2 separate regions of the Homo sapiens genome follow, and region 2 is linked to region 1. The links come from fine-mapping of genetic effects on gene expression. Tissue or cell type: monocytes. Region 1 holds a variant in brackets; the other region holds the start of a gene. All regions are shown on one strand. Distances are between the middles of the regions.

Region 1 (5,843 bases):
ACACAGGATCACTCACATATGTACATGTACCCACCACAAACGTGCAAGCTCCTGCACACATGCATGCACACAAACGTGTACACAAGTGTGAGCTCCTACACGCATACACACACACACGTGTACATGCACCAAAGCATGTGTGACCTACAGACATGCAGAACATGCACGTGTACACATACCACAGACACGCGTGTGCATGCTCCTACACAATACATATGCACATATCATGAACAGCGTAAGTTCCTACACACGGACGTGTGATACACACATGCATGTACAGGTAAGCACACATGTACAAGCTCCTACAGGCTTGCTCTCACACACGTGTATGCACAGCAGAGAGACGTATGAGCTTCTACTGCACACATGCACACACACACGCACACGTACATTCACTACAAACGTGCAGCCTCCTGCACACGTGCACATTCATGTGTACACCACAAATGAGTTCCCAGACGTGTAAACACACGTGCACACATCGTACACATGTGAGCTCCCACACGTACACACAGATGCACATGGACACACCCCAAACACGCACAGGCTCCTACACACATGCACACACGTGTACACCACAAACGAGCTCCCAGACATGTAAACACACGTCTCCCACACGTGAGCTCCCACACGTACACATGCACATGTACGCACCACAAACACATGCGCAGGCTCCTGCAGGCGTGAATACACACATGCACACACATATACACACATGTGCCACAAACAAGTGCACACTGTCCTGGTGTCCTGCACTGCATCCTGCCTCCTTGCTGAGGGGCCCCTGTGAGAGGCCTCTGGATGGGCATGGGAAGATGGGCTCCCTGGCCCCCAGCCCATGCCTCCCTGGGATGAAGAGTCCCCCTCCTGGCAGAATGTCTGGGCTTTGCAGAGCAGGCCCCGGGGGTGAAGTCGCAGCTTCACTTACACCAGCTGCTCTGTGAGCAAGGCTTGGTGCCCTGGACAAGGCCCTTCCCCTTTAGGGAGGTCCAGCCTCGCAAGCTGAAACCTCCCCTCGGCTCAGCCCTATACCAGGCGGCCACAGCAGGACTGGCCACACCCACGCCGCACCTCATCCGTGCACGCGTCGGAGCACGGCCAGCCTTCCGCCACGAGCCAGCTGGGAAGGGCCGCGGCCGCCTAAAGCCCCAGTCAACCCAGCCTGTGTCTGAGCAGACAGGGCGAACAAGCAGGCCACACCGTCTCGAGGGAGGAGGCCAGATGCGGCCAGCGTCTCCAACAGGGTGACCATCCGCTCGGCTTGCTGAGCGTTTAAACAAATGTTTAGACAGGCTGTGGGGACTCCCCTGAGTTGAGCCTTGGCCAGGGGTCCGGTGCTGTCGCGGGAAACCTCCAGCCTTGTTCTTCAAACCACTCAGCTCATGTGTTTTGCACTGACTAGTACTGAATAATACAACCACTCTTATTTAATGTTAGTATTATTTATTTGACAACTCAGTGTCTAACAGCTTGATATGCAGGTCCTTGCATCCTACATTTCTTTAGGAAGTTACCCATTTGTAACTTTAAAAACAGGAAAAATATCAGTTGGCAAATGCAATCTTTTTTTTTTTTAAGCTAAAGGTGGGTGAACTGGAATGAAAATCTTTCTGATGTTGTGTCTATAAGCAGCCTTGATGGGATATGTTAGAAGTGTCATGAAAGTGTGATTCTACTTTTGCAGAAAAATCTAAAGATCAATTTATATAGCTTTATTTTTTACTTTATCAAAGTATACAGAATTTTAATATGCATATATTGTGTCTGACTTAAAATTATAATGTCTGCGTCACCATTTAAAATGTCTGTTCATTATGTAATGTAATAAAAGAAGGTCTTCAAAAATGTATTTAACATGAATGGTATCCATAGTTGTCATCATCATAAATACTGGAGTTTATTTTTAAATTATTAAACATAGTAGGTGCATTAACATAAATCAGTCTCCACACAGTAACATTTAACTGATAATTCATTAATCAGCTTTGAAAAATTAAATTGTTAATTAAACCAATCTAACATTTCAGTAAAGTTTATTTTGTATGCTTCTGTTTTTAACTTTTATTTCTGTAGATAAACTGACTGGATAATATTATATTGGACTTTTCTCTAGATTATCTAAGCAGGAGACCTGAATCTGCTTGCAATAAAGAATAAAAGTCTGCTTCAGTTTCTTTATAAAGAAACTCACACAAGTGGTGTGTACATTTTCTGCTCTGAGAAACTGTGCAGTCAGAACACTTCGCAGCGTGCTTCTGTGCGGGATGGAGGTGGCAAGCCCAGTGGGTGATGTGGGCCCTCCCTGGCTGTTCCCTCGGCTGCCACCCCCTGCAGGGATACCAGGTGTGCCAGGTGCAGGGCCCTGGTGCTGACTGCCCTGGATGCCAGTGCCTGCACAGAACCGGAAACACCACTGGGTTTCCCAACCTTCTGGTCCATCCCCACCACAAGCTCCTCCCTGACCTCTGCCAAGCTCCTGCCTGCCACCTCGTGCTTGGGGTCTAGGTGCCCCCTTTCCATCCCAATTTTCCCTCTTGACCAAACCCCAGGCTCCTCCAGGCCCTTCAGCCTCCTGGGCTCTGTTGGCTGAACCCAGCCTTTCCCACTCTGAAGTAGAGGGCATTCCCTGCCCCCTGCCACTCCCAGCCCTGGCAGAATTCTGGGTGCTGCCACGGAGCCCCCGGAATGCCCCCTGGCCTTGGAGGCCGTGGCCTTGTCCCAACCCTGACCTCACCCTCTCTCGAGTTCCACCCAGCCCGGCCGTGTCATACTCTGCAGTTTTGTGTCTTGTCTGGAAACACCAACTTCAAAACACCACCAGGTCCCAACTTCTGGGATCCCAGCTCCATTGGGGCACCCGGAGAGGGGCCTTGGGGTGGATCCTAGAGCATCCCTGGTGGCTGGTGCCTGAGTCCCGCCTGGCTACATCTCCTCTCCCTGCTCAGCCACCTGCTTCCCATGGAGTCTCAGCTCAGGGCCACGTGGGAAACACCCCGGGAGGGGACAGAGGGCCCCTGGCTCGCAGGCTGGAATTCTAAACATGGGACTTTTTCTGGCTCCTGAACGCCACAAAGTCGGGGGTACTTTTCACAGGCAGTGCTCCGAAGGCATCTGTGGGGTGAATGAACCTACAGCTGCCCTGGATTCTCTCCGAAATGCTTTCCTCTCGTT[C/T]CCTGGATTCTCAGCATCTTCATGTGGGCTTACCTTTACCTTTCCAGCTCGTAACCCTGAAGCCATCTTCCGTACAGCTGTCTCTTCCTCTTGTAGCAGGAAAACAGATAATGCTGTGATTTTGCGGGTCATGGGGAGAAGAGGGGAGGGGCAGAGCAGGCTGGTCCCAGGGGGCGGCACTAGGGTGGGAAGGCCTGGCCCTAATGAGTGACCCAAACTCGCTTCACCTCCCCCTGCTCTCCAGACAGAAGACATGAATCCTGAAAGCGAGATGCCCAGTGACCCTGCCCACTGCCCAAGGAGGAGGAAGCCTGGCCCTCCCTGCCCATCAGGGCCTCCTGGGGAAGCCAGAGGGGGATGCAAGCTTGCCCTCCACACTGGCCCATCTGTCCCGTGCCAAAGATCTTTTCTTAACTGCAGATGCTAGGTCACTGGGGGCCTCTGTGGGTGTTTAGCAAACATCATCAACCACACAGGCCACCCGAGGCCCCCACAGCAGATGATGCCGCCTGTGGACCTGAATGGGAGTGTCTGTGTGCCTGCAGCGGTGAGGATGGAGGAAGGCGTGGCTCGTGTGGCGCTGCGTGCCCCGCGCTGATGCTGGGGCTCCCAGAGCCGCCCACGTGGCCTGTGGCGCACTTGCTCAGTGGCGGGTCCTGAGGTGGACGAGGACTGGCCCTGTCCTGAGGAGGCTGCCGGTCCTTTGCACGCGCAGTGAACCCGCTCACCTCGTGCAGCCTGTCCTGACGACTGCTTTCCACAACAGCATAGCGTGTGGCCTGCCAGTGAACGGGCCCAGGTGTGGGAGGGACGCAGGGACAGAACCCACAGGAGCCCCTTCCCGGTGTCTCGAGAGGTGTCCTCAGGGCGTCCTCGGGGCATCCTCAGGTGTCCTCCGGGTGTCCTCAGGTGTCCTCAGGGTGTTCTGGCATCCACCAGCCTGCCCAGGGCATCCGCTGCTCCCCCACATCAACTGAGGGCTGTTCCATGCCAGCCTCATACTCTCACCTGGGACAGGATTGCTGGGAGGGCTCAGGGGACGGGGCAAGGCCAGCCAAGCCCAGAAGGGCTGGAGGGAGAGCGAGGCCGGCATAAAATGGTTCTCAGCTCATGTGGAGCCACAGATGCTGGCTTGGGGCAGCCTCCAGGCTCTGACAGGGAGGCTGGTTTGTTCAGGTGTCCTCCAGTGTCCCAGCAAAGGGGACATTCCAGCAGCACCTGGGGCCAAGAGAGAGGGAGGAGGATGGAGCCTGGAGAAGAAATAAAAGTTGGAATTAAAAGTTGTTTGCTGGGAGAGGAAGAGCCATGTGCCTATCTCAAAAGCGTGGGTGACATGCGTGCTTCCTGTGAGCGCCCTGCGGAGGCTCGTCTGTGCACCAACACCCCGGGGTCTCCCCAGGTGTGGCAGCACCACCCTGTCCTCCACCTGCATCTCCTCTGGGCGCTCTCCATGCGGCGCTGGGGTCAGGGCCCGCCCCACTGACCTCCTTTTAGCTCGGTCGCCTCTGTAAAGACCCCATCTCCAACCAAGGCCACATTCTGAGGCACTGGGAGTTAGCACTCCGACATCTCTTTTTGGAAGACACAATTCAACCCCCAACACTCCGTTCTGGGGGGCCATGGAAATGCCTCATCCGGCTTCAGGGCAGTCACACCTGGGAGCAGCCGCGGCCTGCGGGGTGGATCCGGGCCTGTGCGGCGGTGGGGTGGGGTTGGAGGGGTGTTTGAGGCCATGGCTGCTCCTTGGATGACAACCTGGAACACACCAGGGGAGCTCGCTTGCCATCGGTTCTGAGTGGCTCAACCTGGGTGACTGCAATGGACCGAGAGGGTCCGGGTCGTCCCCAACCCGCAAAGGCATCCAGGAAGCCACCCGGGGACCCTGCTCAGAGCAAGGCAGAGCCAGACACACAGCAACAGGCAAGCCGCCCCGCAGAGGATGAGCCGAGGCAGCACGCACCAACACGGGGCTAAAGTCAGCATCTCACTCATCTCACAAGGCTTCCTGACTTCTTAAGACATCAGTGGTTACTCTAAAAGAGAAGAGCAGGCCGTGGCGGGCAGGTGACCCCTCACCGTCGCCCTGGGGGAAGGAGCGGGCTGTGGCGGCCGGGTGACCTCTCACCGTCTCTGTGGCGGCATCACTGTCTTTCTGCCGGCCAAGCCATCGGGGCAGCAGAAGAGTCTCAAACAGAAACCCGGCTCAGCTCTTGTTTCTCACCTCCTTGTTTCAGCAAAATTCTCCCCAAAAGGTGGCTATATTTGTTGTCTCTGTCTCCGTACACACCCTCATCTGCCTCCCGATCTGTGGACGGCTTCTGGGCCCTCGTGGGACGGCTGGGTCCTGTCTGTCTCTGCTTCTCAGCGGGCCCCGGCGCAGGCCACCACCCCACCTGCCCTCGTGGTCTGCGTTCTTTGCCTTCACAGCATGAATCTCACCCCGATTTGAGGCTGTGTCTGTGTACATTAACCTATTTTATGTATTTTTACTGAGACATAAGCTCCAAGAAGTGAGAGACTTTGCCTCGCTCTGGGCCGAGCCCTGTGTCCAGCATGGGGCCTGGGGTGCAGGAAGGACGCAGTGACCATGGGGCTGGCTGGACACAGACTCAGGGCCCCTGCCCGGCTCAGCTTCCCAGTGAGGATTCCAGGTGCTGGGTGCCTGGTTGTAG
Region 2 (5,843 bases), 200 kb before region 1:
CCTCCTCATTCATCCCATCCCTCCAGCACTGTGAAGCAGCTGTGCTCGCAGTGGGTCAGGGGTAGGTCCTGGTTATTTGAGGCGAAGACAATTTCATTCCCCTTGGACACTTACTAGTTTGGTGATGTGCACTGACCTCGGGCCTAAGCCAATCATCTCAGGGACTCTGCTACTTGCGTGACAGACTGGGCAGGAGTGGGCACGTGACTTAGCTGGCACGTCACTGTGAAGTCTCTCCTTCTGCTTAGATGTGAAGGAAGAAACTTGCAGGCCCTGGAGTTCTGGCAGTCGTTTCACTTTTGAATGCACTGGGAGGGGCACCAACACATTACATTATCATTTATTCAGTCTATGGTAGATTATTTCCAAAGATAATCCCCCATAAATTCTCTGTATGATAATCCCTCATAAGGATTAGGAGTTCTCATAATCCCTCATAAGGATCCCTGTCTGTACATGGGATCCTCCCATCAAGGAGTGAAATCTACGTTCTTATCCCTTGAATCTAGGCTGGCCTTGGAATTTATATTCACCAGTAGAACATGGTAGAAGTCATATTCTTGGACTTCCAAACCCGGGCCTTACAGGCTGTATAGCGTCCACATTGACCCTCCTGAGCTGCCATGTAAAAAACTCAGGCTAGACCACTGAATGATGAGAAGCCAGAGAGAGACAGCAAGGCCGGCCTGCCCCCAGTGTTCTATCACCCTAGCTGAGACCCCAGCTGTGTGACTAGACCACAGGAAGCTTCCAGCCCCAGCTGACCCCCAGAAGAATGCAGCTGCAGGACAATCCCAGCCAACAACAGGTGGAGCAGAAGCACCATCGCACCAATTCCGCAGGGTCCTGAGAAATGGTAACCCACTCACTGCCGTTTCAGCTCCTGCACTCGCGGTCACTCGTGACACAGCCAAAAATAACTGACTCACAGGGTGTCTTAGTCTGCTCAGGCTGCTGTAACAAAATCCTTTAGATGGCTATTCATACACACAGAAGTTTGCTTCCCACAGTTCTGAAGGCTGAGAAATCCAAGATCAAGGTCCCAGCAGATCTGGCATCTGAGAAAAGTTCTCTGCTTCATAGAAGGCCTCTTCTAAGCATCTTCATATGGCAGAAAGGGCAAGCAGGCTCCCAAAAACCTCAGTTTTAAAGGGCACTAATCCCATTCCTAACCACCTCCCAAGGCCCCCACCTCTTAATATTTGGGATTAGGTATCAGGTATTTGGGATTAGGTTTCCACGTGTGAATTTGGGAGGACACCTTCAGACCATAGCACAGGGTGAGTTGGACTTTGTTTTTTAATAGCCCTGATTTTTTTTTCTTAGATTTACCGTGAAGATGCTGACATGTGTTAGAAACAGAAAATCCAGCTCATGTGGTTTAAACGGAGACGTCTCTCATAGCAGGAAATTCCAGGTGAGGGCAGCAGGATTTTGGTGAATTGCCTGGTTGTGCCACCAAGGACTCCTGCTCTTCTCATCTTCCCAGGCGGCCACCCCAGGGTGAAGATGCTCTTCCGGCCACCTTCTCTTATAAGTGCAAAGGGCTGCGGAGCACCAGGCATTGCATCCAGACAGGGAATGCAACATTCACCAGGGAAAAAGGAGCATTTCCTCTTTATGTTCCTGTAGGAGTGAGAAAACCTTTGCCAGACAACCCCCAGCAGGCTTCCTGTTGGGACTCATTGACTTGAGCTTGTTTGAAGCCAATTGTTGGAAAGAGAAATGGAGTTACCAAGATTTTCTCAAGAGACAGAGTTTACCCTTAGCCACACAGAGTGGATACCTGAACCAGCAAGGATAGAGAGGGCATGGCTGCTGCATTGTCAACCAACAGTATTCACAACAGAATGAAAAACAATTCACATTTACTACTGAATAAAGCAGACACTCCTGACAGACAGGCAGCCTTGATCTAGTGCCTTATACAACCTCTGATTGCGCCTCGACCCCAATCCCACAGTCACGGTTTACAAGGTAGAAGCTTAGTCAAAATCCGGCTTCAGCAGTCAGGGTTCTTGCAGGAAACTGAAGGTGTTCTTGGGAGGGGATTTGGAAGCGAGTTTGATGAAGGACTCTTTGTTGCGGTGTGGTCATGGTTCAAGGATCCTTCAAAGGGTGCTGCTATTTAGGGACCAGCAACAATGGCAGACCGACAACATGTCTCACCCTAAGAGGCTTGGGGGCGGGGAGAAGTTCTGTTCGTAGAGCCTAGAGGAGTTGTGCAATGGAAAGGGCACCCAGGAAGAATCGTAGCCACAGAGTGAAACCAACACTGGTGGGTGTGGGGCCAGGCCAGGAAGGAGAGGGGAAGAGGCCCCTGCCTCCCTCCTACCCGGTCTGCAGCAGGTTGTCCCTGTGGGTGAAGATCCACTGAGGGGGACCGCCAGCTTCCTGAGCACAGGGCAGGCCAGAGCAGGACAGGCTGGGATGGAAAATGAAGAATCAGTGCTTTAGCCGACAACAAATGGGAGCCGTTTACTGTTTAGTCACTATGATTAGTGTTCACTAGTACTCATTTCTCTTCGTCTAAAAAGTGGCCAACACCATCTCTTTTCCACAAGCACTCGGGAGAACATTCATATTCAATTGCCTTCCTAAGACCCAGACGGGGCAGCGCTCTCCACAGGCCACCAAAAGGTGTTGCCTGTTTGGTTTCATCAGTGATTATCTGTGGCAGCAAGACAGGAAGTTGGAAATCAAGTACCTCAATTAAGTCAAGGCTGACCGTGGAATTAGAGAACAAGTGTTTGTTACCCCGGCCAGGTCACCCTAGGGAAAACAGGCATTCTCCGGGATTGAAATGGTGGTGTTTGTGTGGTAAATAGTTCTCAGTCCAGTTCAAAGCCAGCAGCATTAAGGACACGCCACCGCCACCGGGAGCTGGAGACCAGGCGAAGCTGAGCTCCTCTGTGGTTCACCAACCCCTCAGGCCGCCTAAGTGTCTTCTGCTGTCGCAGCTTTGGGGACAGAGGGGTTTCGGAAACAGGGGCCTCTTGTCTGCACCCTCCCCTCCCACTGACAGGCTGGCAGCCCAGGGCAGCCACCTGAGGAGCGTCCCTGTGTCTCTCCATCTGCAGAGCAGGAAAAGCCTGCGGGTCGGTGGCGCCACGCTGGGGCGAGACCCAGCTTCGGCTCAGGAGATCTCCCACCCAGCCGGACTCCCGCTCTCTGCCCGCGGCCCCCTCCCACACTCCCACCTCGCCCCGCGATCTCACTGCCCCATCGAGGCTTCCGGGCGGAGGAGAAAAGTTTTCCGGCAGGAACCCGGGAAGGAAGCCCTGGGACCCTGGCTGAAACTCCGGGTTTCCCCAGTGCCGAGTCCCTTCCCCGCCGCGCCCAGCGCCTGCGCCCCGGGAGGCGGAAGCAACAGGGGGGTTCCTCCCCGCGGCCTCTGACCTCTGCCCTCTGCCCTCTGCCCCCAGGGTCTGGGGCCCGGGCGGAGGCGCGAGGGGGCAGGGCCGGCGCGCGGGTGCGAGCGCGGGTGTGGGCGCGGGGCCGGCGGGGGCTGCGGCCGCGGGGCGCATGCTCACTTGCGCCGGTGACGTGCGCGCCCGGAGCAGGGGCAGGAGCCAGCGGGGCCCGGAGGCTCCAGAGGGCGGCGGGCAGGGGAGGAGGAGACTCGGGAGGAGCAGAGCGCAGGCTCCGCCGCGGCCGGGGTGCTCCAGCCGAGCCCAACCGAGCGGGCGGACCGACGGGGAGAGAGAAGGCGCCAGAGCGCGCGCGCGCGGCCCCGAGCAGCAGCCTTGCCGCCAGTGGAGCAGCTGCCGACGCGCGGGGCCGCGGACCCAGCATTCGCCGGCCGGGCCGGGCATGAGCGCGGAGGGGCCGCGGCCGCCCCCTGCACCGCCCGGCGCGCCGAGGCCGTGACCGGAGCGGGGGGCGCGGCCGCACTAGTACCCCGGAGCCCATGGGCGCGCCGAGCCGGGCGCGGGGGCGCTGAACGGCGGAGCGGGAGCGGCCGGAGGAGCCATGGACTGCAGCCTCGTGCGGACGCTCGTGCACAGATACGTGAGTGCTCCCGGCGCGGGCTGGGGGACCCGGGGACCAGACAGACGCGGGCCGGCCCCGCAGCCCGGACCCTGTGGCCGGTCCAGCCCCGGGGTCCCGGGAGGTCTCCGATGTCTGGGACTCGGACCGCCCCCGGGGACGAGCGGGATGCTGGGGAGGGGCCTCGGAGTTGACACCCTGGGGCTTCCGACGGGGTCTAGGTGGGCACAGCGCGGGGCCCCAGCCCCGGGCGGCCACCTGCTCCCTGGCCGCGGCCGCCTGGCGCCCCCTTCCCGCCCGCAGCGCCCTGGGGGTCCCTCGGAGAGGCTGGCTGGGGTTCGAGCTGTCCCGGCGGACCGGGCGCCCGGAGGGAGCCAACTTCGACCCCGCCGGGGCCCGGGTCTGGGGAGGAACCTTCAGATGCGGCTTCCGCGCAGCCGTGTCTGTAAGATTAAGGGATTGGGAGGAAGCGTTACACTTCTGCAGAAAAAGGTAGCAATTGTGTTTGTTCTTTAACACCCCTGGGGGATTCAGAAGCGGAGTTTGGAATCTTTTTATTTTTTACCTTAAAGTAACCAATTAGATCAGAAGTCCGGGGTCTTCTTGGGTTCCTCTGGAATTTGCCCCTTCAGTGATAAGCAAGTGAAGAGCTCAGGAGGGAAGACTCGGAAGGGGAAAAGTTGATTTTGTTTTACACCAGAGGAGGGGAAACCGGAATCCCTGGCGTTAGGTGTAAAAAGGGGTGTGTGGCCGGGCGCGGTGGCTCACGCCTGTAATCCCAGCACTTTTGGAGGCCGAGGCGGGCGGATCACGAGGTCAGGAGTTTGAGACCAGCCGGACCGACATGGTGAAACCCCGTCTCTGCTAAAAAATACGAAAATTAGCCGGGCGTGGTGGTAGGCGCCTGGGATCCCAGCTACTCAGGAGGCTGAGGCAGGAGAATCGCTTGAACCCGGGAGGCGGTGGTTGCAATGAGCCGAGATCGAGCCACTGCACTCCAACCTGGGTGACAGAGCGAGACTCTGTATCAAAAAAAAAAAAAAAAAAGGGTGTGTGTGTGTGTGTGTGTGTGTAGGAGAGGAAGAAAACTGTCCCAAGCACAGCGTTTCCTGCCACTGTCTTGCACAAGAGGCTTCATTGTTCCATAGAGGCTGGCGGTCACTGGTCAATCACAGGTTCGAGAAGTCGCATGCACCGGGTTTGATACTAGAGAGGGCAGTATTATGGGAACTTTGTTCTTTCCCGGCATAGGAATTACCTCAGGCAGCCTTTCATATTTATGAGCCTTCTTTAAATAGGAGACCTTGGCCAAAGATAGATAGGTTTCTTTTCAGTGGGGGATGCCAGATCAATGCTTTCCCCCGGATTTATTTATTAACCAAAAACCTCGGAGAGTCAAGGAGACTTGAGTGCACCTTACATCGTTTCCTGATCTCGGGGAAGCCTTAGGAAGGTCAGCCTGACTTACTTAAGTGGAGAGAACTCACCCCTGGTGATTCTGATGATTCCGATGCTAGATCTTGAAAGGCTTGGCTCCAGGAGCCTTGTGTTACTCCCTCACTGGTGCTCGAGCCCCCAGTTCAAATCCTAATGTGAGTGGTAAACCTGTGTTTCACTGTGGTAACGTTATAGAAGACCCAATCACAGTGACTATAGGTAACCTGCAGTGTAAGAGAAATGCTTTATTGGGCGGAAGCTTCTGTTCTCAGTTGTGTCGCTCAGAAGTGTGGGTCCCTAGACACCTTATTTTCCTGCTTTGTTTCCTTCGAGCGAAATGGAAGAGGGAAGGGACTAACACTCACTTTGCCCGCGGTGTTCCCAGTTCATTCCGTTCCCTTCTAACACTCAGTGTT

Evidence for each region. PIP is the estimated chance that this variant, and not a neighbour inherited with it, causes the effect.
Region 2: it holds the start of ATP11A, and the variant in region 1 is fine-mapped to the expression of ATP11A in monocytes (TOPMed, PIP 0.92).

What each region holds. Positions count from the first base shown.
Region 1 is chr13:112,884,974-112,890,816 of GRCh38, forward strand. ATP11A (ATPase phospholipid transporting 11A) reads left to right here. Exons shown (of 30, transcript NM_015205.3): 30 at 1-2,195. Among named protein-coding and RNA genes, the nearest start is that of MCF2L-AS1, 81 kb to the right of the region's middle. RefSeq lists enhancers at 535-679, 1,106-1,681, 4,140-4,284 and cis regulatory regions at 607, 4,212. The variant C/T (reference allele first, on the strand shown) is at 3,172.
Region 2 is chr13:112,686,445-112,692,287 of GRCh38, forward strand. It overlaps ATP11A (ATPase phospholipid transporting 11A), which reads left to right and starts at 3,594. Exons shown (of 30, transcript NM_015205.3): 1 at 3,594-4,011. The coding sequence starts at 3,973. LOC102725228 (a long non-coding RNA gene) reads right to left here and starts at 3,371. Exons shown (of 2, transcript NR_187633.1): 1 at 3,219-3,371; 2 at 325-2,425. RefSeq lists enhancers at 2,431-2,948, 5,247-5,748 and silencers at 3,197-4,126, 4,147-4,386.